Homo sapiens: one gene and its partners. The protein of the gene in region 3 binds, or shares a complex with, the protein of the main gene of each other region. Each region holds a gene or a part of one and is shown on either strand. Other genes may lie near its edges.

The links.
Region 1: SNIP1 (region 3) and CWC27 share a complex: the UniProt entries of both Homo sapiens proteins name them as parts of the minor spliceosome.
Region 2: SNIP1 (region 3) and PPIL2 share a complex: the UniProt entries of both Homo sapiens proteins name them as parts of the minor spliceosome.
Region 4: SNIP1 (region 3) and SNW1 share a complex: the UniProt entries of both Homo sapiens proteins name them as parts of the SNARP complex.

The regions. Positions count from the first base shown.
Region 1 is NC_000005.10:64,799,384-64,807,212, forward strand, and holds part of CWC27 (spliceosome-associated protein CWC27 homolog), read left to right. Parts: intron 1-864; coding exon 865-944; intron 945-1,918; coding exon 1,919-1,949; intron 1,950-4,845; coding exon 4,846-5,003; intron 5,004-7,829. UniProt on the Homo sapiens protein: As part of the spliceosome, plays a role in pre-mRNA splicing. Probable inactive PPIase with no peptidyl-prolyl cis-trans isomerase activity. As a component of the minor spliceosome, involved in the splicing of U12-type introns in pre-mRNAs.
Region 2 is NC_000022.11:21,689,873-21,697,701, forward strand, and holds part of PPIL2 (RING-type E3 ubiquitin-protein ligase PPIL2), read left to right. Parts: intron 1-1,512; coding exon of another isoform or gene 1,513-1,621; exon of another isoform or gene 1,622-2,306; intron 2,307-3,943; coding exon 3,944-4,000; intron 4,001-4,720; coding exon 4,721-4,793; intron 4,794-4,882; coding exon 4,883-4,945; intron 4,946-5,064; coding exon 5,065-5,198; intron 5,199-5,521; coding exon 5,522-5,618; coding exon of another isoform or gene 5,619-5,724; 3' UTR 5,725-5,994; coding exon of another isoform or gene 5,995-6,280; 3' UTR 6,281-7,012; coding exon of another isoform or gene 7,013-7,167; 3' UTR 7,168-7,829. UniProt on the Homo sapiens protein: Has a ubiquitin-protein ligase activity acting as an E3 ubiquitin protein ligase or as an ubiquitin-ubiquitin ligase promoting elongation of ubiquitin chains on substrates.
Region 3 is NC_000001.11:37,551,103-37,559,385, forward strand, and holds the start of SNIP1 (smad nuclear-interacting protein 1), read right to left. Parts: upstream 3,192-8,283; 5' UTR 3,128-3,191; coding exon 2,904-3,127; intron 1,646-2,903; coding exon 1,543-1,645; intron 1-1,542. Other genes in the region: DNALI1 (axonemal dynein light intermediate polypeptide 1), read left to right, coding at 5,893-5,973, 6,501-6,646, 8,225-8,283. UniProt on the Homo sapiens protein: Required for pre-mRNA splicing as component of the spliceosome. As a component of the minor spliceosome, involved in the splicing of U12-type introns in pre-mRNAs. Down-regulates NF-kappa-B signaling by competing with RELA for CREBBP/EP300 binding.
Region 4 is NC_000014.9:77,729,792-77,737,620, forward strand, and holds part of SNW1 (SNW domain-containing protein 1), read right to left. Parts: intron 7,285-7,829; coding exon 7,180-7,284; intron 6,216-7,179; coding exon 6,146-6,215; intron 5,222-6,145; coding exon 5,156-5,221; intron 2,811-5,155; coding exon 2,694-2,810; intron 1,339-2,693; coding exon 1,197-1,338; intron 1-1,196. UniProt on the Homo sapiens protein: Involved in pre-mRNA splicing as component of the spliceosome. As a component of the minor spliceosome, involved in the splicing of U12-type introns in pre-mRNAs.

The DNA of each region.
Region 1 (7,829 bases), on a different chromosome or scaffold from region 3:
AAGACCATCCTGGCCAACATGGTGAAACCCTGTCTCTACTAAAAATACAAATATTAGCTGGGCGTGGTGGCGCATACCTGTAATCCCAGCTACTTGGGAGGCTGAGGCAGGAGGATCGCTTGAACCCCGGAAGCGGAGATTGCAGTGAGCTGAGATCACACCACTGCACTCCAGCCTGGTGACAGAGTGAGACTCCATCTCAAAATATATATATATATACTTAATAGCAGCAGTAGTTGTTGTTTTATAATGCTACTTCTTAAACCTTTTTATATCTTGTTTCCCTTCTAAAATGTACATTTTTTGAAAACATGAACTTTGAAATTAAAGCATTTAATAAATATTTGGTCACTGATAAATATTCTCATGCTCAAGAGGCTCTTCTATATCTTTTTTTGTTGTTGTTGGTAAGTAGTTCCTCGGGGATGCACTTATCTTTTGCTTGAGTAACATTTTAAAAAGTGATTCTGTGCAGTATAGGTGGCATATTTGAAGAATAATAGCATGCATTTATTTCAATACTCTTGTGATGTAGCTTCTAAGTTATAGGGGTCATAAAAATTAACTAGTTTCATAGTATGCAAATTATTATGAGAATTTAGTGCTTCAAGTTGGTAATTCAACAGACTTCTTTTAAATGATATATCATTTTTTGAAAGAAAAGGTGTTTCTAAAATACTATTTTCAGTCAATAGAAGAGTAAGATTCTTACTTATAAAACTTTAGTTTGTATTAAACTTTTCAGGAATACATCTTTTGCTAACCATATTATATCATTGCTAGGTTTTATGTAAATTTGTTAACTTGTTATTTAGGAATACTGTTTATTTCCCCCCTCATGATTATATTGTACATTCTTTGCAGAGCATGAAGGGCAAAAGCAAAAGTAGTCATGACTTGCTTAAGGATGATCCACATCTCAGTTCTGTTCCAGTTGTAGAAAGGTTAGTCCATTGTTGGTATGATCCTAAGTTCTTAATTTTCTGGCTCAGATAATTTTCTTGCTTCTTCTGTGAGTAAACAGTCAGTCCTCATAAGTCAAAAATTTTTAAGCCAGCCAAAAAAATAAAGCATTTTGATAACAGAGATAGAGAACTTCAAGCTTGATAGAGAGAAACAAACGCTCTAGTCACTTTCGCACTTGCTCTCTACCTCTGTTGAATGAATTACATTTAAAATTGTTTTACCATTACATGTTAGGACTAGAAACTGTTTGCTTTAACAGTGTAATGCTTAATTCAAGGTTGTTTTGCTACCTTTTCCTTGAAGCATTTTTGCCTTAATTGTATCATGAATGAACAAATTACAGTTAAAGGTTTTTGTGAAGAAGTTACCAGTTTGGGGGCCAGTCCACTGACTATAAATTCTCACATACTTTGAGGAGTTAACAGAAAGTTGTCTTGCTACCTTTGTTGCTTCTCTTTGAGAAGGGAAAACGTCTTGGTGTTAGATGTAATAGCACAAGATAAACTGGGCCAGTATCTCAAGGGGCACTACAATGCTGTTGTACTCAGTTTAGCTCATTTTCGAAACTCCTGTTTTAAGACAATCTTTTCTTAATACCCTTCTATTTGAAGGATTTGGGGGTTTTTTTAGTCAGAATATTTCAAGCCAATAAAAGAAATTGTTTTTTGCAGACCATTGATCATAAAAATAACACTGTCGGTTGTTGTTTGCTTTTTTCCTTTCAAATTCTAGTGAACGCATATATTTGCTAATGAATCATACTTATTCCACTTATAAAAAATGACTCTAAAGAATGTTTCCATCTGTTCTATAATGCCTTTCTTAAATTCCTATGTTGAAATACATTTTTGGAATGTTATTCCCAGCAAACTATTCTAGATTTTTGGGTTACAAAATAATTGTGTTAGTTTTACCTTGAAACTAAAATTTGTTTTGCTTATTTTTTTTATAGTGAAAAAGGTGATGCACCAGATTTAGTTGATGTAAGTATTTATTTTGGTATTAATATAGTTTGAACAATTCATAGAAAGTACAAAATTTTTACAAAAACTTAATTTTGTTCTTAAAAAGTAACGTATATTACTTTTATAGTTATATATGTCAAATTTTGGAAAAATATGAAAAACAGAAATTATTTAGGTGTTAGACTATTTCCTTACTCTAGGGGTGTGCGTGTGTGTGTGTGTATATCTCTCTACAACATTAGAATCTTATATATGAATTTCTAGTCTGTTTTTTTCTCCCCCTCACATAACATTACGTTAATACTCAAACTTCAGATGTTATAAATTTATTGTATTAAAAGTTTAAATATTGGTGTGTGGGCATCCTACATGATATATGGGAAATGCTTGGATCAGTAATTTATAGTAGTGTCTCCTTTTTATATACACATTTCAAAAGATTCTCATTCAAGAGTGTAGTGATCTTTATTAGTTGTAGTGGCTAACAAAGCTAACAAAACAGAAGGAAGATTTTCCTTTAATACATAAGAGTCAAGTTTTTCAAATTATACATATGCCACTTTTTATATAAAAACCCATTAATCTGTGCATTGTATAATTTACTAGGAAGTACATAACTTTCCATGCATGAACACAGATTTATCTATTATCACAGTCAAAAGAGAAGGCTCTCTATGGCTATCAGTAGTAGATAGAGAGAGGATGAATATCTGACCTTGTCAAGAAAAGCTTCCTGGAAGAGATGATGCTATTTATGTCTTATATGAGAGTTAGGAGTTAGCTAAGTCAGAAAAGAAAGTGATGAAGGGGGTGAGGTCCCTCTAGCTCAGAGAATAGCATATGCTAAAGCATGGAAATAAGGAGAGATCATACCTTATTTAGGAAATACAAACGGAAATTTAAAGTTTCAAGGAGTCTGTCTTGTGAAGAGCAAGGAAGAAGAGTATTGAAGGTAAGGGGAACTGCATATACAAAATGGTCCGAAGCAGGAGAGTTTGGTGTGTTCTAAGAGCTGCAAGCAGGCCAGCGTGAACAGGGTGTGGTGACAGGCCAGAGCTTCATTACAGAGCTTCATAGGCCATGGTGAGGGGTTTGAGTTTTTTCCTAAAAGGAAGTGAGGAACAGTTGAAAGGTGTTTGTTAAAAAGAAGGATGCTATGATCAATTTTGCATTTCAGGAAGATCACTATTGGCGATATTATAGAGGACAAATTAGAGGAAACAGACTGATACTGGGAAGCTATTGTAGGAGGAGAGCTTGATATAAGACCACAGCTGTGAGATGGGAAAGAGGTAGATTTGAAAGAGGTCTAGGAGGTGACTGATTCTACACTATGAGGTGAGGGAGGAGTAGTCCAAGACAACCACAAGGTTTCTGGTTTGAGCAACTTGTTAGATGGGTGCAAAAGAAAGCATAGGGTTGAGGTGGAGAAAAGGATGAAAAATAATGAGCTTAATTTTATACATTTCAAGATTGAGGTAATTTGGAGACATCTGTGTAACATAATATGGGTCTAGAAGTTAGGATCAATGTATAGGATAGAAAGTAAAAGTATAGATTTGCTCTTAATATCATGGGTGAGTGACTAAAACTGTGAATCCTTTCCCAGGAAAATGTACTACATTCACAACCAAAATTATATGAATTTGCAGGGAATTTTTTTTAGATCTCCTGAGGCCTGAGCATGGAAGGCCTAGGTTGGTGGTTGTCACCTTTTAGTGCTTAAGAATTACTTAAACATCTTGTTGAAAACATTCGTAATTCCTACCCCAGAGATTTTGGTTCAATAAGTCTGCAATGAGGGCTAGAATTTTAGGTGTTAATAAACAACTATGTAATACCATCTAAGGACCAGACTTTGAGGACCAGTGCTTTAGGGGTCCACAAGTCTCAAATTAAGAATCCTGCTTCACTACGACTCACCAGATCAAAGAAAGAATCACAAAAGAAAAATGATCCACTTGGGGTTATTTCTTCCTTCTTCTCTCCCCTCTTTCTTCCCTTTGTTCCTCCATCTGTCAATGCTGGGCACTATTCTAGGAGTTGAAGATACAGCAGTAAGCAAAACAGGCCAGAATTTTAGCTCTCATGGAGTGTTTGCTGTAATTGGATGACAGACAATACACATGCAAATAATTAAAATATATGGTGTATCAGATAGGTGATAAGTACTTTGGAAAATAAGCCAGGGAAGATGAAAGAGTACTGGAGGTAAGTGTGTGGTTCTACCATTTTAATAGGTTAATCTCATCACCAAGAGGGTAACATTTGAGCAAAGATCTGAAGGAGATGAAAGAGCAAGCAATGAAGAGATATCTGGAATAGAGTATTTGTTTCAGGCTGGAGAGAACAACAACTCCAAAGTTGGCTAGTGTTGGTGGGCTGGAGTTGTAGGAGATTATGTCAGGGAGGTTTAGATTGCATAGGGCCTTGAGTGAGTTGGGGACCCACTAGAGGGTTTTCACAAGAGAAGTGATTGCTGTGACTTGGATTATAGAAATCTCAGCTTCTGCACTACACCTCTTCTACTTGAATTGATCCCTGTTGAGGTCAGTATGCTGGCCAACTGCCTTCAAAAGCCACATTTCCCACTGAGATAAGAATAGGAATATAGACAGAATAGCCCGAGTGACACAGAGGGAGAAGTCTGCTGCACAAAGGAGCTGGGCATGAGTTGAGCGAACAGCCTTTCCTGGGGTATCCCATAATTACATAGTTGGCTTAGAGCAGAACCCAGGGCTATTCCCACCTGTAGCAGATTCTTCAAGGGCTTATAATTCAAAACAAAAGAAAACAAAATAAAAAAAAAAACCTAGTTTAGAATGCAATAAGGAGATTCAGTGGATGCAATAGATCTCTAGAAATGAAAGGGGAAATTGAGCACCTGGCAAATACTCATTTTCCATTTCTACAGGATGGAGAAGATGAAAGTGCAGAGCATGATGAATATATTGATGGTGATGAAAAGAACCTGATGAGAGAAAGAATTGCCAAAAAATTAAAAAAGGACACAAGTGCGAATGTTAAATCAGCTGGAGAAGGAGAAGTGGAGAAGAAATCAGTCAGCCGCAGGTGAGTCAGTTACTGTGCTAGATATCAGAGTTTTTGTCTTTTTATATTTCACTTTAATTCAGATTGAATCCTCTCTTCAGCTAATTTTTAAAATACTATTTTCATAATGTTTGATAAACATAACAGTTGTACAAATTGGCCCATTAGCAGGCCTAAAATAAAATACACCAAGCTTAAAGTAAACATAACAATGATCCTATGAGTTCAATTCCATTTTATTTCTCTCTGATCCTTTTTTAGAAAGGCTCTATACTTTCATATATATAGGGTAATAATGTATTAGCTAGATGTGGAAGAATGCATTTGTTAAATACCAATGAGAGCAGTAGAGTAATTGTATAGAAAGAAAAGAGACATCCTCAAATAATTTCGGTAAGCAAAATTTGTCAAAACTGATGAAGAAAATGAGTGAGCCTGAAAACATTCTTAAATATCTTTTCAAGTCTGATTTACCAAATACCATATACCTATCCTAAGCTCAGTAGTATCATAAAATAAATTTCAGCAAATGGTGAAAAGTTTACTGTCTGGTGATGAAAGTTTGTTGGATTTATGACTCAACATTTTATTCTCCTGAAATTCAACTTAATTGAAAAATTATCTCTTTTGTGATTCTATTTCAACTTTATAGTATACATTTTAAATAATATTGCTTTAAAAAACAATAGTATTTGTTTTCTTCAAATACTATTTGGGGATAATATGAATGTAACTACATTTAAATAACATTCTTTTTCCCTATCATGTTTCTCAACCACATGTAGAAAAACTTAAAAAGGATTTCCACGCTATCATTGCATAGCTCCCTCAATTTTTTCTTTATGTAATCAAATAAAAATGATTCCCAGAAATTTCCACTAAAAGCATAGCTTTTAACATTTAGAAATGGTACTTAGGAGTCATCTTAAATGTCTTTTTTCCAGCAATATTCACCTGACACTCAAGTAATCACTGTTGAATAATTTTACATACTAGATTATATTATATATACCATACATAGTAGCTAATATAGACTAAAGATTTTAGTGATCATATGCATGCTTCTAGATTCATAGAGTTGAAAAACCTCTCATTCACACTGTAACTTTTAGTTAAATCATGAATATAATTATGGATACATAATGTTTTATTCCTCTCATTCAAGGCATGTGTTTTCTGATTTTAAAAAATTATGAATTTTTTTAAAGGTTAGGTTTATAATGTAACAAAAATATATTTAAAAATTTTAATAGATGAGCCAACCAAATATTTATTTATGTTAGATTTAAGTGTTCCTTAAACTCCCAACTCAGTCTTGTAGGCTTTAATCAATTTCAAATACTTATATACCCTATAATATAAACTATAATTTAGCAATGCTAAATTTTGTATAAGAACTAAAGTTCATTTTTAATGTACCTTTCATAAGTGTCTTTAAAAAATTGTTTACCTAATATTAAGAAAAGTCAAAGTTTGCATTTTCCAAAATTGTGTTCACTCTTACAATTAAGGGTTATTCTTAAAAGATTTCCTTGGCTGTAGTATGGGCCTGATGACCAAACATGGCATTGATAGCTAGATTTAGGAATCTGATCTATCATGAGAATACTGGAGAGCCACTGAAGTTTTTACAGGCAAATGATATATTGAGATTGTATTTAGTATGGAGAATGGATTGATAGAGGAGTGTTTTGGGCTATTATACAAAATACCATAGACTGGATGACTTAACAGACATTTAAAGCTTAGTTTTTATGGTAATTTCTTACATAGGAACATATATATCCACTTACTTATGTAAACAATTTTTCTCTTTTTATAAATCAGTATAATTTGCAAAATTAAAATCACATAATTTGTATATTCACTGTAGAGGAAAAAGTTATATTCAAGTGCATTGCAAGTCTACTAAGAAAATTAAATAAATTTAAAAAGTACGTTAAATACTTTTCTACTTAGAAAAGTAAATTAAATAAGAAGTCTCCAAAGGTGGCTTGAATATTTTAGGTAAACATGAGTATTGTGGACATTGTTGGATTCTTTTAGGTAAAATAATTGGCAAAGTGTGCCTTTGTAAATGGTGCAGACAGCACACATTTATTTATAACTGTTCTGTTCCCCCACATTTTCATTATTCACATTCTCTACTCTCCCTCCTTCATCCTATCTGTCCTACCTACAAAGAGAAACAAAAGAAAAATAAGGTCAGGATAGAGGAGAAAGTACAGAATTTCAAAAGGAAGAAACAGTTTTTTCCTCTAGTGTAGAAATTTCCATGATTGTCTCATGACCACGTATTTTTTTCAGTTCATAAAGTTGCCAAAATCAGACCCTGGCATGGTGGCTCATGCCTGTAATCCCAGCTGCTCAGCAGGCTGAGGTGGGAGGATTGCTTGAGCCTAGGAGCTCTAGGCTGCAGTGAGCTATGATCCTGTATGGGCAACAGAGCAAGACCCTGTCTCTAAAAAAATAAAAATAAATTTTAATAAATTTCCAAATCATTAGTACTTTTGGTTATTTATACCAGCGAGTCTCTGAAGTTAACTTTATGGTTAAAAAATAAAACAACACAGGAAAGCTCCAAATGTACTGAAAAACTACAACGTGGTAAAAGGGATAATTATATTTAAAGGAAAGTCACTGCTCAGTTTGAGTTATAATGGGTATAGCTGCCAGCCAGATAGGATGTCAGTGTGATATCATTATCTATTCAAAAATGTGTACTCTTGATACATGAGTTTTCATCAGGGTGTGCTTGAAGTACTCTATTATCCTTTGGTCATTCTTCCATTTAAGCAGTAGGATCAGAAACTAGACTAGCCCACCAGCCCTTTAAGCAATGAGCCG
Region 2 (7,829 bases), on a different chromosome or scaffold from region 3:
GGATGTGGCCACTACAAGGCCAGAGTGGATGGGTGTCTCCGTGGCATTCTGGGGTGAACCCTGGCCTGTCGTGGCTTCGCCGTGGCCTTCTGCCAGCTCACTGTCACACGTGGTCTCGGTTGTGTGGACTGGCTCCAGCAGGTTTTGCTGTGACAGGTGTGGCCCCTGCATGTTACGAGCAGGGCTGGCTGTGGCTTTGTGGCCTGGAATGGTTAAAATCACAGGGATGGCCAGGCGTGGTGGCTCACACCTGTAATCCCAGCACTTTGGGAGGCTGAGGTAGGTGGATTGCCTGAGCCCAGGAATTCGAGAGCAGCCTGGGCAACATGGCAAAACCCGATCTCTACAAAAAATAAAAAAAATTAGCGGGGCATGGTGGCGTGCGCCTGTAGTCCCAGCTGCTTGGGAGGGTGAGGTGGGGGGATAATCTGAGCCTGGGAAGTCAAAGCTGCAGTGAGCTAGGATCGCGCCACTGCACTCTATCCTGGGCAGCAGTGAGACCCTGTCTGGAAAAAAAAAAAAAAATCAAACGAGTCAGCTGTGCTTAACAGCTGGGCAAAGGCAGCTGGCAGCTATTCGTGCCACTTCCTTGGGGCTTTCATTTCAGGGTTAACGGGCACTTGTTTCCATGAAGGCTGGTATTCTCTTGGCCTCGCTGTGCTGACCTTTTTTTCTCATGCCTAATCACACTTTCCATTCCTCAGTCCCTTAGTGGTCTTTGAAGGGTTTGTCTGTTTTCACTTCACTTTGAAGGGTTTGTAATTGTTTTCAGTTTCTGTCTTTGCTTCTTCATGGTGCTTTTCCTCCTTCCTCACTTTAATCCATGTGTGTTTCTGATAGCCACGTCTGTCATTTTGAGGGTGCATGTTCCCTCTTCACTGCTTGCTGGTTGTTGGTAGCTTCCCTTTCAATTTCTTCTCAGCCAAGGATTGCCTAGGACTGTTGGTTATTTTCAAGTAGGTTGGGTGCGTGGTTTGTTTTTGTTGTTTGGCAGGGGCCAGGGCAGGGAATCATTTTATTATTTTTTATTTCTCTTTGGCTTAACCAGCCTGTGAAACTGCTGACAGATCAGTTGCCACCTTCTCTTTTTTTTTTTTTTTTTTTTTTTTGAGATGGAGTTTCACTCTTGTCACCCAGGCCGGAGTGCAATGGCGGGATCTCGGCTCACTGCAACCTCTGCCTCCTGGGTTCAAGCGGTTCTCCTGGGATTACAGACGCCCACCACCACACCAGGATAATTTTTTGTACTTTAGTAGAGACAGGGTTTCACCATGTTGGCCAGGCTGGTCTCCAACTCCTGACCTCAGGTGATCCACCCACCTCAGCCTCCCAAAGTGCCGAGATTACAGGCATGAGCCACCACACTCGGCCTTCTTTTCTTATTTCTAGTAGTATTTTGTGCTTTCTTGGACAACTGTTGCCAAAGGTTTGCCTATTTTACCGTATTCAAAGATCATTAGACTTTAATTTGTTACAGCTTTGTTTTCCCTTTTGTGATTCTTGTAATTAAAGATTTTCCAGGAGGAGGCCAGGCGCGGTGGCTCATGCCTATAATCCCAGCACTTTGGGAGGCCGAGGCAGGCGGATCACGAGGTCAGGAGATCGAGACCATCCTCGCTAACACGGTGAAACCCCATCTCTACTAAAAATACAGAAAACTAGCCGGGCATGGTGGCAGGCGCCTGTAGTCCCAGCTACTCAGGAGGCTGAGGCAGGAGAATGGCGTGAACCCAGGAGGCAGAGCTTGCATTGAGCCGAGATCGCGCCACTGCACTCCAGCCCTCCAGCCTGGGTGACAGAGCGAGACTCCGTCTCCAAAAAAAAAAAAAGATTTTCTAGGAGGAGCTTGCCTCAGGATGGTTCTTTTACTTTCCTCTTATCTGAGTTTAATTCTGCTTCTAGTTTCCTTCACTGTGTTAGAAATCAGCAAGAGAGGGAACTGCTTGCAGGTCAGAGCTCAGGTCTGCACCGTTGCAGATGTCACATCTGCGGACACTTGTCTGGTGGCCTCGGGTGTGGTCAGACTTGGTGGGCTCAGGAGCGTGTCCCTGCGTGGCTGGGGGGTGCATGTTTGATGCAGTGGAGGTTAAGTCCTGTGTCTCACCAGCCGGGTTGTGGGCTGTGCCTGCCTGCACCACCCTGGGGAGTGCTCCGTGCCGCCAGCGCCGGGACCCACCCCATGTCTTCCATCGTTTTCTTTTCAGCCTCTCTGGCTCTGCCCTCTGAGGGCTTTTTGAAGGCTCACAGCTGGGGTCTGTCGTGTTCTCCTTCATCCTGACAGTCTTTTTTTTTTTTTTCTTTGAGACGGAGTCTCGCTCCGTCCCCCAGGCTGGAGTGCAGCGGCGCGATCTCGGCTCACTGCAAGCTCCGCCTCCCAGGTTCATGCCATTCTCCTGCCTCAGCCTCCCTAGTAGCTGGGACTACAGGCGCCCGCCACACGCCTGGCTAATTTTTTGTATTTTTAGTAGAGATGGGGTTTCACCGTGTTAGCGAGGATGGTCTCGATCTCCTGACCTTGTGATCCGCCCACCTTGGCCTCCCAAAGTGCTGGGATTACAGGCGTGAGCCACTGTGCCTGGCCAATCCTGACAATCTTAAATGTGGACTTAATTCTTCAGGTGGTCTGTTGCGTTCTATGATCTTGTTGCTTTCTAGTTACCATTTTTTATATTTATTTTCATTTGCTTCTCTTCTCTTTCTGCTGGTTTGGAAATTAGATGTTTTACTTCTGGTCTAAGGTTAAGAAGGACATCTATTTAAAGTCCAAAGTTGGCCAGGTGCAGTGGCTCACGCCTGTAATCCCAGCACTTTGGGAGGCCAAGGCAGGTGGATCACAAGGTCAAGAGATTGAGACCATCCTGGCTAACACAGTGAAACCCCGTCTCTACTAAAAATGCAAAAAAATTAGCTGGGCGTGATGGCGGGCGCCTGTAGTCCCAGCTACTCAGGAGGCTGAGGCAGGACTATGACATGAACCTGGGAGGCGGAGCTTGCAGTGAACCGACATCGCGCCACTGCACTCCAGCCTGGGGGACAGAGCAAGATTCCATCTCAAAAAAAAAAAAAAAAGTCCAAAGTTATGAGGTAGTCTCTGCCTTCCTCCCAGACCAGGCTGGCAGAAACTCTCTCCTCGTCTCATGGCAGTGCTGTTGGCTGTTTTAATTCCACCCCATTTCCTTTTTTCTTTTTCTTTTTTCTTGAGACAGACTCTGTCGCCCAGGCTGGAGTGCAGTGGTGTGATCTCAGCTTACTGCAACCTCTGCCTCCCAGGTTAAAGCGATTCTCCTGCCTTGGCCTCCTAAGTAGTTGGGACTACAGGCACACGCCACCACGCCCAGCTAATTTTTGTATTTTTAATAGGGACAGGGTTTTACCATGTTGGCCAGGCTGGTCTCCAACTCCTGGCCTCAAGTGATCTACCTGCCTTGGCCTCCCAAAGTGCTGGGATTACAGGCGTGAGCCACTGTGCCTGGACGACCTGAGCATTTTCTTAGTCCATGTTTATTTATGTTACCCACGTTTCTTAATCCCTTGACTCCTGTTCTGGCTTTGTTGCCTCCTTTCTCCTCAGTCCTTCAACAGGTCCCTTGATGACATGGGGCTGGCTCTGGTTTTCCAGGTGTCCCCTCGTCCCAGCCACCTCCCACAGAGCTGCATGGCCAACCTGGTTCTGGGCACAGGGACCACCTGACAGGCAGTGGGCAGCAGCCGGGGCAGCAGGAAGACCTGGGGACAGCTGGAGTTCCGGGGTCCCCTGGGCAGCCTTGGGGGCTAATGACCTGCCCTGGTGGGCAGCGCAGGGAACCACGTGCACACATGCGTCCGTGGAAGCTGCAGGTTCCCAGAGCTGGCTGTAGAGGGTGGGCAGCTCCTGGTGTGCTCTTAGGCAGGCCAGGTGCAGAAGGTGCCATGCTCTCCCTAACCATCCAGCCCTCCTCCCCAGCTTCATCACGTTTCGCTCCTGTGCCTACCTGGACAAGAAGCATACCATCTTTGGACGGTAAGGGAAGCGGCTGTGTGAAGCCTGGGGGGTCAGTGGGCTAGGTGGGTTCCTTCCCCACCTGAGGCCTCCTCACTGCCTTTTTCGTGGACCTGAGTCATGTGCCATGCTGGCCATCACTGCTGGGGGTTGAGGCTATGCAGAGCTGCGATGGAGGGTGCTCCATGTGCCAGGGAAGTCTGGCTCTCTAGACCCACCGGGCTCAGGAGAGGAGGAAACTCGCCCATGTGGCCTGGACACTGCCCTGTCTCAGACCCAGTGGCGCGCCACTCGCAAGCCTGGCCACACCCAGCTCCCTTCACCCTCTAGTCCAGGGGTCTTTCCAGCGTTGTGGGCCACGTGGTCTCTGACGCCCACCCAGCTGTGTGGAAGCAGCACGAAACAGGGTGGACGCAGGTGATGTGGTTCTGGCCAAGTGGAACTCTGTTTACCAAACCAGCGGGGAGAGCACAAGCCACGTTTTGTGACTCCTATTTTTCCTGTGGGTGGGGGAAACCAAAAAAAAAACAAAAACAGAAAAAAACCCAGCTGGATATGCCCAGGGCCATGGTCAGCCGACCCCGCCCTTGCCACTCCCTCTCATCGCCTTCCTGGCTGCTGCCCAAGGACCACCAGGCCAGCCTCGGGGCTCTCAACCCCTCTTCCCACGTGCCTTGGGGCTCAGCCGTGGGGGTGCCCTCCTTGAGCACACGCAGACCCACCTCTGTCTCCCTGCTGCAGGGTTGTTGGGGGCTTTGACGTACTGACAGCCATGGAGAATGTGGAGAGTGACCCCAAAACTGACCGCCCTAAGGTCTGTGCCCAGGGAGGTGGGGCGTGGCGGCTGGGGGCCAGGCAGGCAGGGGGAGGACCTGCCGTGCACTGAGCCCCCTTTGCTGCTAGGAGGAGATCCGCATTGATGCCACTACAGTGTTCGTGGACCCCTATGAGGAGGCCGATGCCCAGGTGAGGGGGCACGATGCCACCACCTAGGAGGGTCTGGGCTAGTGCACTTTTCCACCCCAAGCCTAGCATCTGTCCTGCCCGAGGTGCTGCCGGTTAGCCAGCGCCCTGTTGTGCCACAGATTGCGCAGGAGCGGAAGACACAGCTCAAGGTAGCCCCGGAGACCAAAGTGAAGAGCAGCCAGCCCCAGGCAGGGAGCCAGGGCCCCCAGACCTTCCGCCAGGGCGTGGGCAAGTACATCAACCCAGCAGCCACGTGAGTGCCGCGGGGCTGGCCTCCCTGTTTCCCATGGTGTTTCCTAGGGCTGACTGAGGTCTGAGGGTCAGACCCAGAGGGGCAAGCAAGCTATGGGCACTGGTCCCGGCCGTGGGCTTGTGCTGTGTGGCCTCTGCAGCCGAGGGACTGCCTCTGAAGGCCTGGCCGGGGCCTCTGTGGGTGGAAGAGATCAAATTCAGGGGGATGTGGGAGCAGCAGGTGGGAGGGGTTGGGCCTACACCGGGAGGGCTGTATGGAGACACAGACAAGTCAGGAGGGGCTGAGGGAGGGTGTGGGCTCCCAGCGGCTTCTTCTCTTCCCAGGAAGCGAGCAGCAGAGGAAGAGCCCTCAACCAGTGCCACTGTCCCCATGTCCAAGAAGAAGCCCAGTCGGGGTTTTGGGGACTTCAGCTCCTGGTAGCAGCAGGTTGGCCGCTGTGGACCTTGGTGGGGTTGCAGGGCTGGGGGCCCATGTCCACATCTCCATTTCCAGCCTTTCTAGCCTGCCCTCTGCTGCCAGCCAATAAATTGCTTGCCTGCTGCCTGCATCCCCTTTCCTGGCCCCTGGGAGCCCACAGCCTTCCCATCCCTTAACCTGTTGCCAAGGGCCTTGGCCCTGTTTCCAGGACCTGGCCCAGCCAGAGCCCACTGCTGGGACCTTCAAGCACAAGGCCTGCCCTACACCCAGGCTGGTGCCTCAGGCCTCCCCTCTAGTAGGCAGGCCAGGTTAGTGAGGAAGGACTGTGTCTCCAGATTGTGGTTTCCTCTTTAAGACAGGGTCTTGCTCTGTTGCCCAGGCTCCAGTGCAGTGGTGTGATCATGGCTCACTGCAGCCTCGACCTCCTGGGCTCAAGCAATCCTCCTGCCTCAGCCTCGCAAGTAGCTGGGACTACAGCCGTGCACCACTACATCCAGCTGTATATGTCTGGTTTTCTTACCCCTACTTCTGTCATCTTCTCAGGGACAGCCTATTTATACAACCAGTGTGGTCCCCTGACCAACGCCATTACCTGGGACAAGTTTTCAGACCCCAGACTTACTGAGCCTAAGCCTCTGCAGGGTGGGCTTCTCGGTCTGTTTTGACAAAACTTCAGGGGCTTCTGAAGGCTGGTGTTGGACGGCAGCATTGAGTTTCCTGCCGTGCCCTGCCTGAGCTCTCAGGGCCCTGCTCACCTGCTCTGGCTGTGAACCACCTGGGCTTCATCTCAAGCCTGCCTGGCGTCTCTGTGCCCCTGTGAGAATCTTGAGGGGACCCACACTGGGTTGAGGCCAGTGTCTCCTGCTGTGAGAACAAGTGGATGTCCCTCTCCCCGCCCTCCTGCTGAAGTGGCCTTGCTGCTCTCAGGCCCGGCCACTGGGCTCCAAGACTCTGCTCCTCCTGTCAGTCACTGACTCTGATGGCCTTGGGCCAGCTGCATCAGCAGCCCTTAAAGAAAGACCCCTCCCTCAACCCCCATTTTTCTGTTAAATGTGCCCCTGGCTGGCTTTTTCTTCGTCTTCAGCCCAGGCCAGTGGTCAGTGTTCTCATGTCATGGACTCTCCTTGCCTGACACTTGCCTCTTGGGCTCCCTGTTGCCCTCAGGCCACCCCCCACTTCTAGTTCTTCACACTAAGCCCTAACTTAGGCCTTGTTCTTGGTTTTCTCATTTTTGTTGCCCCAAATCTTGAACCTGTCAGCAACTTGCAGGCTGTACCTCTGCCCTTCCTTTTCTCATCAATCACTGATGCTGAAGCTGCAGGCCTGAGCCCTTTGTCTCCCTGGATGCTGGGTGGCGCCTCATCTGCATCTCTGCCTCACCCCATCCACTGCCACAGGCTGCCTGATGACCACTAGAGGTATGTCTGCCCCTCGTCACCCTGCTGCACACCAATCTGTGGCCCTTCATCATGCTAAGAACAAGAACTGCGCCATGGCTGGCTCCTTCTCTTCTCCAGCCCATCCCTCTGCAGCCTGTCATCCCTGTCTGTGACCATTGGTCGGGCCCCTGGGCTCTAGAGTGACTTTTGACGCCCTCCATCCCTCCCGCCAGGCACTGTCCTCCGCAAGGCCTGGTGCAGCCCTGGCAGTAACTGGCTTGTAAGAGGCTCAGACACCAAGCTGGGCCTGCAGAGGAGGGGCACAGTAGGACACAGTGACTGCCCAGGTGTCCACACACCTGTAGGCCTCTGAGCCAGCGTCCAGGGTACAGGTGCGGGTGGTGGGGATGAAGGCCTGACCAGGGAGGGAGAAGCAGGTTTGGAGAGGACCCTGTGCCCACCCTGACAGACACCCTGGCTGGCCCTGACTGACTGTATTCTCTGGCCACATTCAAGTCCCCCATTGGTGGGGGCAGAGAAGTAGGACCAGGCCATCCTTGGCTCCAGAGCTCGAAGACCCCAAGACAGCCCTCTGCTCTCAGCGGCGCCACAGAGAGCCTGGGCTCAGCCTTCTGCATCAGGACATGGCCTCGTCCACTGAGGGCACGATTTAAACATTTGACATCAGAAGCTTTATTTGTAAACCTCACACAGATAAGGACCAAGGGCTGGCGGTGTGGCCAGAGGACAGGGGAAGCTGAAGGCCCCGTGCTTGAGCTCGGCAGTCCTGCTCCTTGCAGTGAAGCCACCATGGGTGACCGTCCAGCCTCACCCG
Region 3 (8,283 bases):
ACACTGACACACAAAGAAAAGATGTCCAATATCATAAGCCATTAGGAAAATGCAAATTACGGGAAGCTGAGGCAGGAGAATCGTTTGAACTCAGAAGGCGGAGGTCGCAGTGAGCCGAGATCGTGCCACTGCACTCCAGCCTGGGTGACAGAGCCAGACTCTGTCTCAAAAAAAAAAAAAAAAGGAAAACGCAAATTAAAATCACAATGAAATACCACTACACGCCTATCAGAATGGCTAAAATAAAGTGATAACTTGAAATGCTGATAAAGATACAGGGAAACCGGATCATTCATACATTGCTGGTGGGAATATAAAATGATACAGCCACTATTACGGACTAAATTGTACCCTCCAAAATTAGCATGTTAAAGTACCAAACCCAAGTACCTCAGAATGTATTAATAACTTTTTGGAGATGAGGTCTTTAAAGAGCTGGTTAAGTTAAAATGAGGGTAGGGCCCTAATCCAATATGGCTGAGAAAAGACAACAGGACAGAAGAAAGATCATTTGAGGATATAGCAAAGAGGTAGCCATCTGCAATCCAAGGACAGAGGATTTTTTTTCAGGAGATTCCAAACCTGCTAACACCCTAATTTTTGACTTTTAGCCCCATAACTACAAGAAAATGAATTTCTGTTGTTTAAGCCACCTACTCTATGGTATTTCATTATGGTGGCCCTAGGTAAACTAATACAGCCACTCTGGAAAACAGTCTGGCAATTTCTTAAAAGAATTAAACCTGCAACTACCGTACAATCCAGCAATTGTACTCCTGAGCATTTATCCCAGAGAAATGAACTCTTAACGTTCACATAAAAACCTGTACACAAATGTCTATATAGCAGCTTTATGTGTAATAGCCAAAAAATGGAAACAACCCAGATGTTCTTTAATGAGTAAGTGGCTAAATCCATGCCATTTGGATACCACTCAGCAATGAAATGGAACAAACTACTGAGAGATGCAACCTGAATCAATCTCCAAAGGATTCTGCTGAGTGAGAAAAGACAATCCTAAAGGTTACATACTGTATGATTCCATTTACATAACATTCTTGAAATGACAAAATTATAGAAATGAAGAACAGATTAGAAGTTGACAGAAGTTAAGGAAGGATAAAAGTGGGAGATAAGTGGGTTTGGCTACAAAAGGACAACACGAGGTATTCCTTGCGGTGAAGGAAATGTTATCTTGACTATATCGATGTCAATATTCTGATGATGATATTGTACCACAGTTCTGTTATGAATAGATGTTACCACTGGGAGAAACCAGGAAGAGTATATCTCCCTGAATTATTTCTGACAACTGCATGTGAACCAATAATAATCTCAAAATAAAAAGTTTAATTTAAGCAAACAAGCAGAAAAAATAAATACAGCCAGTTTTCAGAAAAGCCCATCGGAGGTACAAGTAGAGATGTAGGCGAGCGTACGTGCACATGTGTGCACACACACAACACACACACACATTCCTCTTTAGCTGTGATAGGAAAAGGCTCTCAATTTGGACCCATCAAAACACCCCAATCCACTTACCTGCTTCACTTTGACTGTTGAGTGGTGAGGACTTCGGTTTCTCTTACTGCGAGGAGACTTGCTTCTTCTCCCTGAGGCCTTGTTTTTCTTTTTGGGTGGGGACCTATTCAGAGCATGGTACACAGGATTTTATCGCAATTTCCCTTCCCCCATAAAAATTAGCTTCCAGTATCAGGCTTACCTACTAACACAAACACCGCATTTGTGAAGGTCTCTGCCGGTCACATTAAAGGAGTCACGAGGTTCACTTTCCTAGCCCTAACATCTCCCTTGCATTCCATACTCACATAGACAACTGTCTACTGAACCTTCTCACTTAGGTAACATAACTCTTAATTCCCAACCCTTCAAAAACCTTTCCTCTCCTACTCCTTGCCATCTCGCTGATTGGCATCACCATCCGTAAGTCACCCTTGACTCTTTATCCTTCACTACCAACACCCCTACCATCAATAACAATCCCTCCATCCTGTGGTTCTACTTCCTCCCTGTGCCATCTCATTCCTACCACCCACCTTCTTGACCACTATAATCCACCGACACTGGCTTTTTCCCATTTCAATCATAATTCATTCTACTTCAGGTTCTTTGCAGATGTTGTTTCCTCTGCCTGGATCTTTAAGAGGTTGGATCATTCTTATCAGTCAGGTCTGGGCTCAAATGGCACCTCTTTAGAGAGTCCTCCTCCCTCTTCTCTCCAATCTCTCACTATCACATTACTGTTTTAATCTATCAATAATACTTGTTACTAACTGAAACTATTTTGTTTATTTTTTTATCATGTCTCAGGGTTAGAGCATAGCCAATTTGGCATCGGTGAAGATCATCTAACTGAATCACCCTTGCAGCCCCAATACCTAGGGCAGTCTTTAACACTTAATAGGCACTCAGTAAAACTATGGTGAATGAATGCATAAATAAATGAGTCTAGCAAGAAGTAACTTTTTTTTTTTCCCCAGTTTCTGTTAGGTAGCTCGCTTAGACCTCGATGTGAAAACCTTTCTGGCAGGTAACCGGAAAGACAACGCCCACACTCCATTTGTGGGAGGGATGGGGAAAATCTCAATCCAATTTAACAGATTATCAGTGCTATCTGTTGGGCCACACTCTTCGAAGTGCTAGGAACACAAGAATGAAGGAGTGGGATCCTGCCGGTTAGTCATTAGGCGTTGAACACCGAGCTATAATGCAAGTGACAGAGCAAGCATAACACAAGCACGACTGGATCACTCTCAACAGCCCCTCAGGATTAAGTCCGGGCTGCTGCGCCCACCATTCAAAACCTGTTTCGGACGCTAGCCCTGCCCGCCTTTCTGAATGAGCCCAACCCAATGTCCATCCTGGACTGCTCCCCCACTTACCGGCTAACTCCTCGGGCTCGGTTCCCGCGGTGGCCCGAGCGGGCCGGCTCGCTGGTCGGCGGAGACGGGCTACCACCGGAGTGGTCCGGACGGCGGTGGGCGGGAGGTGCGACTTCTGGGCTGAGACGCTCCTGCTTCACCACCACCCCCGCCGGCAGCACCACGTCCCCGTCCCGGTGTCTTCGCCGGCTCCCTCGCTCCCGTTCGCTCTTCACCGCCTTCATTCTGTGATTTTGGCTGGGCGAAAGAAAACAGATCAGTTGAGCTCCTCTAGCTGGAGGAAATGACGAGTTTAACTCCTGGACTTCCGCTTCCGGGGTGCCCAGGCTCCCAGAAATCCTCGCGGCAAAGGTTAAACACGTGACTACTCCCTAGTGGGTGTGGCCGCAGCGACAGGCTTGGGTGGCGGGAGTTTCAAGTTTCAAAAACAAACTTCTGGCTGGGAGTGGTGGCTCACGCCTGTAATCCCAGAACTTTGGGAGGCCGAGGCTGACGGATCACTGAGGTCAGGAGTTAGAGAACAGCCTGGCCAACATGGCAAAACCCCGTCTCTACTAAAAATACAAAAATTAGCCGGGTGTGGTGGCGCGCACCTGCAATCCCAGTTACTCGGGAGGCTGAGGCAAATGAATCACTTGAACTGGAGGCGCAGGTTGCAGTGAGCAGGGATCTCACCACTGCACTCCAGCCTGGGCAACAGAGCGAGATGTCTCAAAAACAAACAACAACAAAAACTGGGAAAAAGCAAACCTCTCAAGGCTGTTTGTTGCCACATTATTAGTAATTACAAAACGTGGAAACAATGTAAATACCAGCAGTAGGGAAGTTAGCCAAATTAATGGGTGTTATGTGGCCATTAGTAAACCATTTACAAACTTTAAAAACCCTGACTTGTTAACGATAAAGCAGGATACAAAATTGTGTGCAAACTATAATTACATTTACATTTGGAAATAGAAGGGAGGAAGAAATGGAAATGCAATCAGAGATGATAACCCATGGGCAAATCATTAGCTTTTCAAATCATTAGCTTTTCCTCTTCTATTTCCTGAACTTTCTGCAATGCTGTTGGGGCTCAGAAACCAAAACCCCAAAATACGGCTCACTGACAAGCTGAACTGAAGAAGCCTCAATGTTCCTTTCCAGTGCCCATCATCTCTCCCAAAGCACAGGTCTTTATCTGCCTAAGATCCAGACTACCAAAAGGAATAATTGTTTCTTTCTTCTCCACCCAAGAATGTAATCACACCTGACCAGAGACCCTTATACTGTCAAAAGTAGCTATTTACAGCCGAGCACGGTGGCTGCAGCCTGTAATTCCGGCGCTTTGGGAGGCCAAGGCAGGAAAATCGCTTGAAGCCAGGAGTTTGAGACCAAACTGCCTAACATAGCAAGACTGTCTCTACAAAAAAATTAAATTTGGCAGGGGCTAGTGGCTCGTGCCTGTGGTCCCAGCAGAGACAGGAGGATCGCTTGAGCCCAGGAGTTGGAGGCTGCAGTGAGCCGTGATGGCACCACTGCACTCCAGCCAGGGCTACAGAGTGAGACCCTGTCTTCAAAAAAACCAAACCAAAACAAAAAAAAAAACACAAAAAACTATTTACAAATTTATCTCTGTTCCCTTATTCATTCATTCTGCCTAGTAATCCCTGAACAGAATTCCTCCTTCTCCCACCCTCACAAACCTGTTTTACCAGGAGGGTATATAAGCTTCTGAACCCTTTTCGGGGTGGGTAATCATACTGTGATTCTCCCCGTGTATACATTTTAAATACATTTGTATGCCTTTTCTCCAATTAATCTGCCTTTTGTGAATTGATTTTTGAGCGAATCTTCAGGGGGCAAAGGGGAGGTTTCCCATTGGCTCCTACTTTGTCATTTCTCCATTTAATTAGAAAAATACTTCAGGCTGGGCGCGGTGGCTCACGCCTGTAATCCCAGCACTTTGGGAGGCCGAGGCAGGCGGACCACGAGGTCAGGAGTTCGAGACCAGCCTGGCCAACGTGGTGAAACCCCGTCTCTACTAAAAATACAAAATTTAGCCGGGCATGGGGGCACGCGCCTGTAGTCCCAGCTACTCAGAAGGCTGAAGCAGGAGAATCGTTTGAACCCGGGAGGCGGAGGTTGCAGTGAGCCGAGATCACGCCACTGCACTTCAGCCTGGGCAACAGAGAGAGACTCCGTCTCAATTTAAAAATCAAAACAAGCCCTTTCTTGCGGTGACGACCTACCCACGAGAACATGCCTCTCGCAAAGGATCTCCTTCATCCCTCCCCAGAAGAGGAGAAGAGGAAACACAAGAAGAAACGCCTGGTGCAGAGCCCCAATTCCTACTTCATGGATGTGAAATGCCCAGGATGCTATAAAATCACCACAGTCTTTAGCCATGCACAAACGGCAGTTTTGTGTGTTGGCTGCTCCACTGTCCTCTGCCAGCCTACAGGAGGAAAAGTAAGGCTTACAGAAGGATGTTCCTTCAGGAGGAAGCAGCACTAAAAGCACTCTGAATCAAGATGAGTGGGAAACAATCTCAATGAACACATTTTGGGAACAACTACAACAACAAAAAAAACCTTCAAAAAACCTAGGAACTCCAGATGACTTCCTTTGGGAATTGTCCCTTAACCCTTCATGAGAAGTCAGGAGATGACTCCTGTTTTTCAGGTGACAAAATTGGAGCATGGCAAAGGTGATCTGCCCACTTCAAATCGCTAGCTAGACGGAGCATAGGGACTCGAACTGCCGTTTTCCTCGCCTCCAAGAGTACAGGGACGAACCGGTGAGCAGAAGGCCTAAGAAGTCAGGCACAAGAGGTTTCTGCCCAGGAGGCACAGAATGAAACTTGCCGGCTGTTGGCCCCGCCCCACTTCGAAGCTCCGCCCAGGCCAAGAAGCGCGGGGGCGGGAGTGAGGGGGCGGTTTCCATGGTGACGGCAAACAAGGCCCACACTGGACAGGGCAGCTGCTGGGTTGCTACTCTCGCCTCCGCCATGATTCCGCCCGCAGACTCTTTGCTCAAGTACGACACCCCAGTGCTGGTGAGCCGGAACACGGAGAAACGGAGCCCCAAGGTAAAGACGGGGGCTCGGGAGACAAAGGAGCCTCGAAACTCCGATAGGGAAAGACACATTCCCGCATGGAGGGTCAGGAATCTCAAGGGACGGGGATTGCAGCGACTGGGAGTAAAGGGAATTGGGAAGTCAGAGAAGGAGGGTGAGAGGATTGTATAGGAAGCCCAGATGTTGGGTGTGACCCCAGAGGGCAGATTTAGGATGGGGAAGGAGGTCACAGGGAGATGGATGGGGCTCACTCTTCTTAATGGTACGCGGGTCCAAGAACAGATGACTAGGTAGTGATTTCCCCATCACCAGAGGTGTGAAAGCACATGCGCCAGAAACACCTGTTCAAGCATTGAGTTGGGGCCAGACTTCATGGCCTCCTTCAGCTCTGTGACATAATTTCTGCTGAGAAGACCGACCCAAAGTAGGCTAGGAAGAGGGGAGGGCTGTGCAGAAGACCTGGAGCAATATACAGGTTGGGGATGTGTGGAGCTGAGCTCCTGAACAATTTCCTGCCCTCACCTGTGCCTTCATCTCAGGCTCGGCTACTGAAAGTCAGCCCCCAGCAGCCTGGACCTTCAGGTTCAGCCCCACAGCCACCCAAGACCAAGCTCCCCTCAACTCCCTGTGTCCCAGATCCTACAAAGCAGGCAGAAGAAATCTTGAATGCCATACTACCCCCAAGGTAAGAAAGTAGGAGCAGTGGCTGGGAGAAGGCCTAAGCTTTTACATCGTGGATTTTGGGAGTGTGGGGGGAGGCACTCTGCCTCTGTTCCTGGCTGGGGTTTCCTCCCAGTATCACAGAGCTCCTAGAACTTACATATGGCTGGATCCTGGCAGGGTGGTGGGAGACCTCTTCTCAATCTACCCTCATTTCCTGCATGCTGTCACCCAATCTCATGGCTTTAGATACCACCTATGTGCTGATGGCTCCCAAATGTGTATTTCCAGCCCTGTCTTCTCCACTAAACTCCAGGACCATATAGTCTTCTGCTTCCTCATTATCTTCATGAAGATATCTAATAGACATCTCAAACTCAATATATTCAAACTAAATCACAATTTCTTCCTTCCCCAATCTGCTCATCCCCCGTATTCTCCTTTTTACTAGGGACTCAAACCACCTTTCATTCCTTTTGATCACTCTCACAGCATGTGTCCTATCCTTCGTCACATTCTTTTGGCTCCACCTTCAAATTCTTTCCCAAATCCAACCACTTTTCACCACCTCTGCTTCCACCATCTTGCTCCTAGTCACTGGTGGCCACTCGCACTGCTGCAGTGGCCTCCTATCTGAAAACACTGCTTCCACTCTGCTCCTAGAATCTATCCTCCATACAGCCCCTAAGTCATAAGTCAGATCATGCCAGTCTCTGCCAGAAACTCTTTTGTGGCTTCCCATCTCAGACTAAAATCAAAAATCCTTACAATGGCCTGGAAGATGTGGCATGATCTGGCCTACGATGTATCCCTGACCTTATCTCCTGTTATTCTGTTTCTTGTTCACTGTGCTGAATCCACAGGGACCTCACTTGCTATTTCTGAAATGCCTCATTCACTCTCCTACCACAGGGCCCTGACAGCTGGTGTTTTCACTGCCAAAGATGTTCTCCCCTTGATATTCTCCTGGTTCCTTTCATTTCTTCCAGGCCTTCCTTGAGAATTTGCTATAGCAGAGCACCCCTGCCCAACATGATCTCCTTTTCTTGCTTTTTTCTTCTGCAGCCACATTGATAAAAGGACATGCCTTTTCATCTATTTTTATGTAATAAGTTGACAGCACAGTTGGTAAGGCTATGAGGAAAAGGGAAATGGGGGCCTACGCAGGCACACACCTTCATGAACCTCTCCACCCCGATACACACATCTGCCTCTTTCTGGCTCGCACAAGGTTCATGATGTCCTGTGTTTCCCACCCCGTAAGTTGGTGGGTAGTTCCTACTGTTCACATCAAGCAACAACCATAAATCGGTCTTCAGCATGTTAGGAGGGTAAGATCTGGAACAGTGGGGAATGATTTCACAGAGGCCCGTTGCCAAGGTGGAAATTGTCTACCACCTACCCATTCCCAAGATCCCTGTGGAGGCAGCATAGTGGGTGTGGCTTTGGAGCCTCACACCCCAAGGGATGGAGGATTCTGGTGGGTTGGTGGCAAAGCTGCCCCTCACCACTACTCAGGCAGAGGGCTCAAAGGGCCCTCTGCTCATGTGCTAGGGACCTTCAAGTCAACGGGTTTTGCTCAGCCTCGCTGTGTCTGCCACAGGGAGTGGGTGGAAGACACGCAGCTATGGATCCAGCAGGTGTCCAGCACCCCTAGCACCA
Region 4 (7,829 bases), on a different chromosome or scaffold from region 3:
CAATTTTTATTTGCCAATTGTACCTCAATAAAGCTGGAAAACAGTATGTCAGGTCATTACTCTGCTCAAAACCCTGCAATTGCTTCCCTTTTCACTTGTAGTAAAAGCTTTATCTTTAGGTTAAAGGGCCATACATGATCTGGCCACTACTCTTCCCACCTGCCCTAACTATTCTGACACCTCATCTCCTACTTATCCCCTTCTTTCTCATACAAATCCAGTCATATTGGCCTGTCTGCTCTTCCTTGGGCCACACTAGGCATACTCCCATTTCAGAGCCATGTACTTGCTGGCCCTTCTGTGTGGGATGCTCTTCCCCCAGAAATCCACATGGTTTGCTTCCTTACTTTCTTCAAGTATTTCTGCTAACAGCACCATCTCAGAAGTGAGGGCTATTTGACCACTCTCACCTTCTGGCAATTTTATATCCTCTTTCCCTGTATTATTTTTCCTCCACAGCAATTATTACCTTTTACTATACTACATGATTAATTTCTGTCTGTCTACACTCACCAGAATGTTGACTGTTATATCCCATCCCCCTACCCACTGTCTAGCAAAAACACTTTGTGTCTAAAAGAGAACCTTGCACACAGCAGATGCTCAATATGAACTAAATAAATGAAAGAATGAATAAATGTACCAGGTAAGAATTTAGTAATGAAAAAAAAATAACCACCCTCACAAAATTTCTTGAATTATACTTAGGACTCGACTTCCCACTCTAATTGAATTAATACACCAATGTAGACCACTAAGTAAAGTCAGAGAGAAAATACTGGCAGATTTAATGATGAGAAATGCATTGGAGCCTACAAGATAGAAAAACTCTGGATTACTTCACCATATGAGGGAGCTGAATTATTCTGTTAGATACCTAATTTCTCTTAAGTTTTGAGATTAAGATAAGAGAAAATCAAGCCTATCATTTGAGTAATAATGCAATTTTGAAAAGTACACTGCTCAGAAGTTTAAAAATTTCTGGTACAGTCCCAAACTGAAGACCCACTTTTTTCTTATCTCCTGTTGCTTCAGCTTACTAAGGCAGAGATTACTCTCCATTTCTACACTATATCTGATGTATCTAAATTTTGTTTATATGTACCTACTTTATATGCAGTAGGAAAAAGATTTTCTAAAATAAGATATATTTTGTTCACCAAGCAAAATTCAATTCAGTAATGAGAATGTCATACCTTTTTCCACATGAGTTTTGATCCCAGCTCTTCTCTCCCTGGCTTTCTGGGCCATTTCTCTAAGTTTCTCTTCATGTTTTTCCTTTTCTTTCTGAGCCATTTTTCTCTCTACTTGGGCACGCATTTCCACAGCTTCACGAGCCTGTTGGTAAAGTCACATGTTAAACAGGACACTATCATGGGATAAATATTTATGGCTATCATCCAACTCCCTAACATCTGGCTGGTAAGAGCAATTATACAGAATTCAGATTTGTTATTGCTAATTAAAACAAAGAGTCTTGTCCACTAAAAGATATCCTGCCTGGAAGACACTGCAAGGTCAGCTTTTTTCTCTGGGAATATTTTAGTGATTGAAACTATCGTGACCCCAATTAATCTTGTAAGTCAAGTATTTCACTAATGCTTTCTCAGAAACAATCTAAAGAACAAAATTAAAGCCAGGCATAGTGGCTCTCTCCTGCAATCCTAGCACTTTGGGAGGCCAGGGTGGAAGGACTGCTTGAGCTCAGGAGCTTGGGACCAGCCTAGGCAACATAGTGAGATCCATCTCAAAAAAATAACATTTTCAAAATTAATAACACTTTCAAAGTTAATCAAGTCAACTCAAGATAAAATCTTAACTTACATCTGCTAGATAATTTTTATAAGGGTACTCACTGTGATACAAAAGACATTTTTTTTATGTTCCAAACACATGCTATGATGCATGTGAACTTCAATATCACATATTAATTCCATAATATTTATATTTACATATATTTTTTGAGATGAAGTGTCTTACTCTGCTGCCCAGGCTGAAGTGCAGTGGTGCGTTCTTGGCTCACTGCAACCTCCACCTCCTGGGTTCGAGAGATTCTCCTGCCTCAGCCTCCCAAGTAGCTAGGATTACAGGTGCATGCCACATCCAGCTAATGTTTGTATTTTTAGTAGAGATGGAGTTTCACCACATTGGTCAGGCTGGTCTTGAACTCTCAACCTCAAGGAATCCACCAGTCTTGGCCTCCCAAAATGCTGGGATTATACACATGAGCCATTGTGCCCAGCCTAATTCCATAATATTTAATACATTATGTAACATTAATAGATGGCCAATGCTATGAACGCCATTTTATGTACTATTCAATTCATTAGAATGTTTATCTGCCTTTTCCTGCAACTGCCCTTTTGGGGGACATCTACATCTAAAATAGAGGAAAATTTGAAATCAAAAATTATGAAACCTAGCAATCTTCAAAAAATGGGATCATCCTAGGAAACCATTATTCTGACATGTTGTGAGGGAGCCGGATCACCACTGTGGGGTGTATGTACACATCTACAAAAGCTGGGAGCATGCAGAGAGCTGCCAACTAGCAGCTGCCATTTCTGACACACGTACCATGGGTGAGACTCTCTTTGGGTGCTCGGTACTATAGTTAAATTATCAGTACCTTAGGTAACCAAGAATGGATTTTAAAAGTAACAAGAGCATTAAACAAATTATAACAAACCAACCTTCCGATCAGCAATGTAGAGGGCTTCTGCCAATTTGGCGAAATTTTCATTTATGTGTACTGTCTGTAGTCCTCTTCCATCAGCAGCCAGACGTTTGTCTAATGGAATTGTATAACCCTAGAGTGAAAGCAGACAGAAAACCCAGTCACAGAAGTGCTTCAATTAATCGTCTGAAGTTAAATTAATTTTATTTTTTTCGAGCTGGAGTCTTGCTCTGTCACCCTGGCTGGAGGGCAGGGGTGCCATCTCGGCTCACTGCAACCTCTGCCTCCTGGGTTCAAGCGAGTCTCCTACCTCAGCCTCCCGAGTAGCTGGGACCATAGGCGTGCGCCACACACTCGGCTAGTTTTTCTATTTTTAGTAGAGACGGAGTTTCACCATGTTGGCCAGGATGGTTTTGAATTCCTGACCTTGAGTGATCCGCCCTTGGCCTCCCAAAGTGCTGGGATTACAGGCATGAGCCATCGAGCCTGGCTAAAATTAAATTTAAATATGCCCACATTTTGAGAACCACTTAACTGGAGGTTCTTTTTCCTTGCATCTTTCTTCACAATGATGCAAAACAACAGCAGCTATCAATGAGTGCTTTATGTAGAAGATCAAGCACTTACACCTATGGTCTCATTTAACCTTCACGATAACTCTATAAAGCTTCTAACATTATTGTGTCCATTTCACTGATGCTTTGGTAACATCCCCAAGGTCATACAGTTAGTAAGTGGGCGATTAGGATTTAAACTCAGCAGGATTTCAGAACCCAAGCTCTGGAAAAATAGATATTTGTGTTAATAATTGTCGATTTTAATAAAAGGAAATCACTGTCAAACAGTTCAACAGTTGCTCCTCAAGTAAATTTAACAGTCAAACAAAGGTAGAATCACTATAATCTTAGCATCTATAGGAAGTTAAATCTGCTGTACTGTCTTAATGATCTGTTATATTCTTAGAATCCTGAAGTTTTAGTAAATAGAAAAAAAAGGCTGGGTGCAGTAGCTCAAGCCTGTAATCCCAACACTTTGGGAGGCCAAGGCAGGTGGATTGCTTGAGCCCAGGAGTTCAAGACCAGCCTGGCAACATGGTGAAACCCCGTCTCTACCAAAAATACAAAAAAGTAGCCAGGCATGGTGGGGCACACTTGTGGTCCCAACTACTCGGGAGGCTGAGGTGGGAGGATCGCCTGAGCCTGGGAGGTTGAGGCTGCAGTGAGCCATGATCATACCACTGTACTCCAGCCTGGGCAACAGAGCGAGACCGTCTCAAAAAAAAAAAAAAAAAAAAAAAAAACCAAAGAAAAAAGAAAAAAAAATGTTTGCTAAACAACTGAATTTCTACATTCTAAAACTTTGCATCCCATTTCAATAACTCAAGAACTGTACTTGAATGTCTATGTAACTTTCAGGCTTAGCTTTATTTTCCAGATATCTGACTAGTCTCTCAAATGTTGACTTTTAGTCCATGGTCTCATAATAAAATGAAGCATTATAGAACCAGCTCAAGATACCATCCAGTTACAAAATACCAATCAACTCAAATCAGACCAGTCGGCAACCTCTTTGTTTAGGGTGAGTATATAAATTCTCTTAAGAAACCTGAAATGGTCTTCTTTATCCATCAAAAATAAAATCATGAACTATGATTCAGGGAAGATGAAACAGTAACTAGCAAATCTATCCCACAATCTACAGATTCTTAACAACTCCTAGAAACTTTGGCAATTATTAGAGATATATAGCTTAAGCCTTCACTACTACAGAGCCCAGTAGTTGAATATTAAAGCACTTAAAGTATCCAAGCATTTACTCTGTTCTTTTGTCATATAATCTTTTACATCAGTTTACTTTCTTTTAGAAATAATTTTTAGATATAAATTTGAGTTTTCTAAATACCATCTTGTATTTATATGACACTTTATTCTACTTATTCCTTCTCTATGTGCTTCTGCTAGCTACAATTCACTAAAAGAACTGATATGGGGCCGGGTGCGGTGGCTCACACCTGCAATCTAAGCCCTTTGGGTGGCCGAGGCCGGCGGATCACAAGGTCGGGAGATCAAGACCAACCTGGCCAACAGGGTGAAACCCCGTTTCTACTAAAATACGAAAAATTAGCCGGACGTGGTGGCATGCGCCTGTAGTCCCAGCTACTCAGGAGGCTGAGGCAGGGCAATCGCTTCAACCTGGGAGGTGGAGGCTGCAGTGAGCTGAGATCATGCCACCGTACTCCAGCCTAGTGACAGAGCGAGACTCCGTCTCAAAAAAAAAAAAGGAACTGACACGGTATTCACGTGCCTGGCATACTAACATTTCTATTACATTAAAAAAGTCACCAAATTGGGCATTCCTTTTTGAAAATGCTCAGTTAAACCACGTGTTGTTTCAACTACAGTTATGCAGGCTGTAGTTGTTTTACTGGTGTTTTCCAGTAGGTTATACTAATAGAGACTGATTTGACAACTTAATTACCTTTGCATTTTTCCAGTTAGAAATACAAGGAGGAATCTTCCACTCTTGTTGTTCCTTTACAGTCATCTGAGAGAAGAGGGAAAGAAGAGACAAGTTTAGATTTATAGTCTACAAAGTAAATCTAAGTATAATCTTTATCTTCAAAGACAGCTCCATATACACTGACATATGCACAGCCGTAGTAAAAGGCCAGCAGTCCATTTGTTTGCTAGCACTAGTTTACCATATAATTCTAGTAATAACTTTGAACTAGTGTGAAAAATGGAAAATAATCTAGAAATTATTCTTGACAGTTATAAATGTTGGCTAGTATTTTTCCATATTTAAAGTGATGTGACTTTTTTCTTTTTTTTATTGAGACGGGGTTTCGCTTTTGTTGCCCAGGATGGAGTGCAATGGTGCAATCTTGGCTCACCACAACCTCCGCCTCCTGGGTTCAAGTGATTCTCCTGCCTCAGCCTCCCAAGTAGCTGGGATTATAGGCATGCGCCACCATGCCCAGCTAATTTTTTTTAAAGTAAAGACGGGGTTTCTCCATGTTGGTCAGGCCGGTCTTGAACTCCCGACTTCAGGTGATCTGCCCGCCTCGGCCTCCCAAAGTGCTGGGATTACAGGCGTGAGCCACCACGCCCGGCCGATGTGACTTCTTTTGGATGAAAAATTGTTCTTTTGATTAACAAAACATATCTTAAAAAGTCAAATTACCAGGGACCTAATGAACCCATATATTCACTTCCTATAACATCCTTAAACTGAAACAGCAGACCCTGTCCATTCCATTAAAAGTAGGGTTTGCATTACTAATAACAAAACTTACAGCTAACATGTTATATACATTCTCATAAGCATTCTTGAAACTTCATCTTGAAAAATAAAAAAAGAAACTACAAGTCAGTGTGGTGACATGCACCTGTATAGGCATAGGGAGGTTATCTATAAAATTAATAACCATGAGTAGAAAAAAATATTTTGGACTACAGCAAAGAATACCTTTCGGCTAGGAGAATGCATGACAGGCGCAGGAGGAGAAGGTGGTCCCCGGGGAATTTTCTTATTAATCCTGAAGTATAAAAACACAACCAGAGAGTGATATAGTTTCCTCCCTTTTAGTCATCATATCAAGTCTCTCCTCCTTTTTCTTGCATAAAAGTTTCAAACATAGACAAAAACAGAGACTGTATAATGATATACATTTACCACTCCACTTTGACAATGAATAAAACATGGCCAACTTTGAAACTGTTACTCACCCCACCTCCACAACATTATTGTCATTTTGCAGAGTAATATACTTTTTTCCACTTTAAAAAGCAGCTTTAGGTCGGGTGCAGTGGCTCATGCCTGTAATCCCAGCACTTTGGGAGGCCAAGGTGGGCAGATCGCCTGACGTCAGGAGATCGAGACCATCCTGGCTAACATGGTGAAACCCTGTCTCTACTAAAAATACAAAAACTTAGCTGGGCATTGTGGTACACGCCTGTAAACCCAGCTACTCAGGAGGCTGAGACAAGAGAATCGCTTGAACCCAGGAGGCAGAGGTTGCAGTGAGCTGAGATCATGCCACTGCACTCCAGCCTGGGTGACAGAGCGAGACTGTCTCTCAAAAAACAAAAACAAAAACAAAAACAAAAACAAAAAAAGGCAGCTTTATTGAGATAATTGACATTTATTAGCTATACATATTTAAAGCATACGATTTGATTAAATTTTGACACAAATATGCACCTGTGAAATCATCATCACAAGCAAGATAGTGAACATGTCTATCATCCCCAAAAGTTTCTGCTTGCCCCTTGCCTATTCCTCTTGTCCCTCCCATCTCCTCTCTGTCCCTACCTCCTTCCCCAGAGGCAACCACCTATCTACTTTCTGTAACTATAGGTTAGTTTGCATTTCCTGGAGTTTTAGATAAATGGAATCATACTGTATGTACTTGTTTTTGCCTGGCTTCTTTCACTCAGCATATTGTTTTGAGATTCATCCATGTTATTGTGTGTATTAGTAGCCTATTCCTTTTCACTTACTTGAACCTTGGAGGCTCCATTGGATCTTTCTGCATTTCTACCATCCGAATAACCCTCTGTTTAGCTCCAGAGTTGAATGCCACTCCTTGCTGAGATGGTGTGTATCTGAAGAAAGCAGATAAAAACTAAAGGTGTAATTAGTTCAAGCTTTCAGTAGGTATTTTCCTTCTATTACAATCTTAAGCTAGACTACATTTTCAATTCCTTTCGCAAAGTATTAACAGAAAATTAACAAAATATTTAGACAAAGCAGACAGCAAGAGGGATAAAAGAACATAAATTATGAGTTACAGTCAAAATATAAACTTGAGTGGTATTAGTTTGCAAATAACCCATCCTCATATGTTTTCCAACATGGAAGGTGCCGTGTTCAGTTTCACAGATAAGCAGTCTAGAAAATAGTACCTATTTAGTATGCCTGCATCTGAGGAAAAAACACTCATAATAATCCCAGCAGGCAACTTACGGTTAGCAGTTTTTGATTAATCATAGGTTATAAAACAGAGAAAAGAATAATGACAGCAGCCCTACCAGCTCTGAATTTTTCCTCAATATCTGTATGTGATTCAATTCTCTATGCAGATTTAGTCAAGTAAAACGCCTCAAAATTTAGAAGTATTATAAAGATATCTATTACTTATAAATGGAAA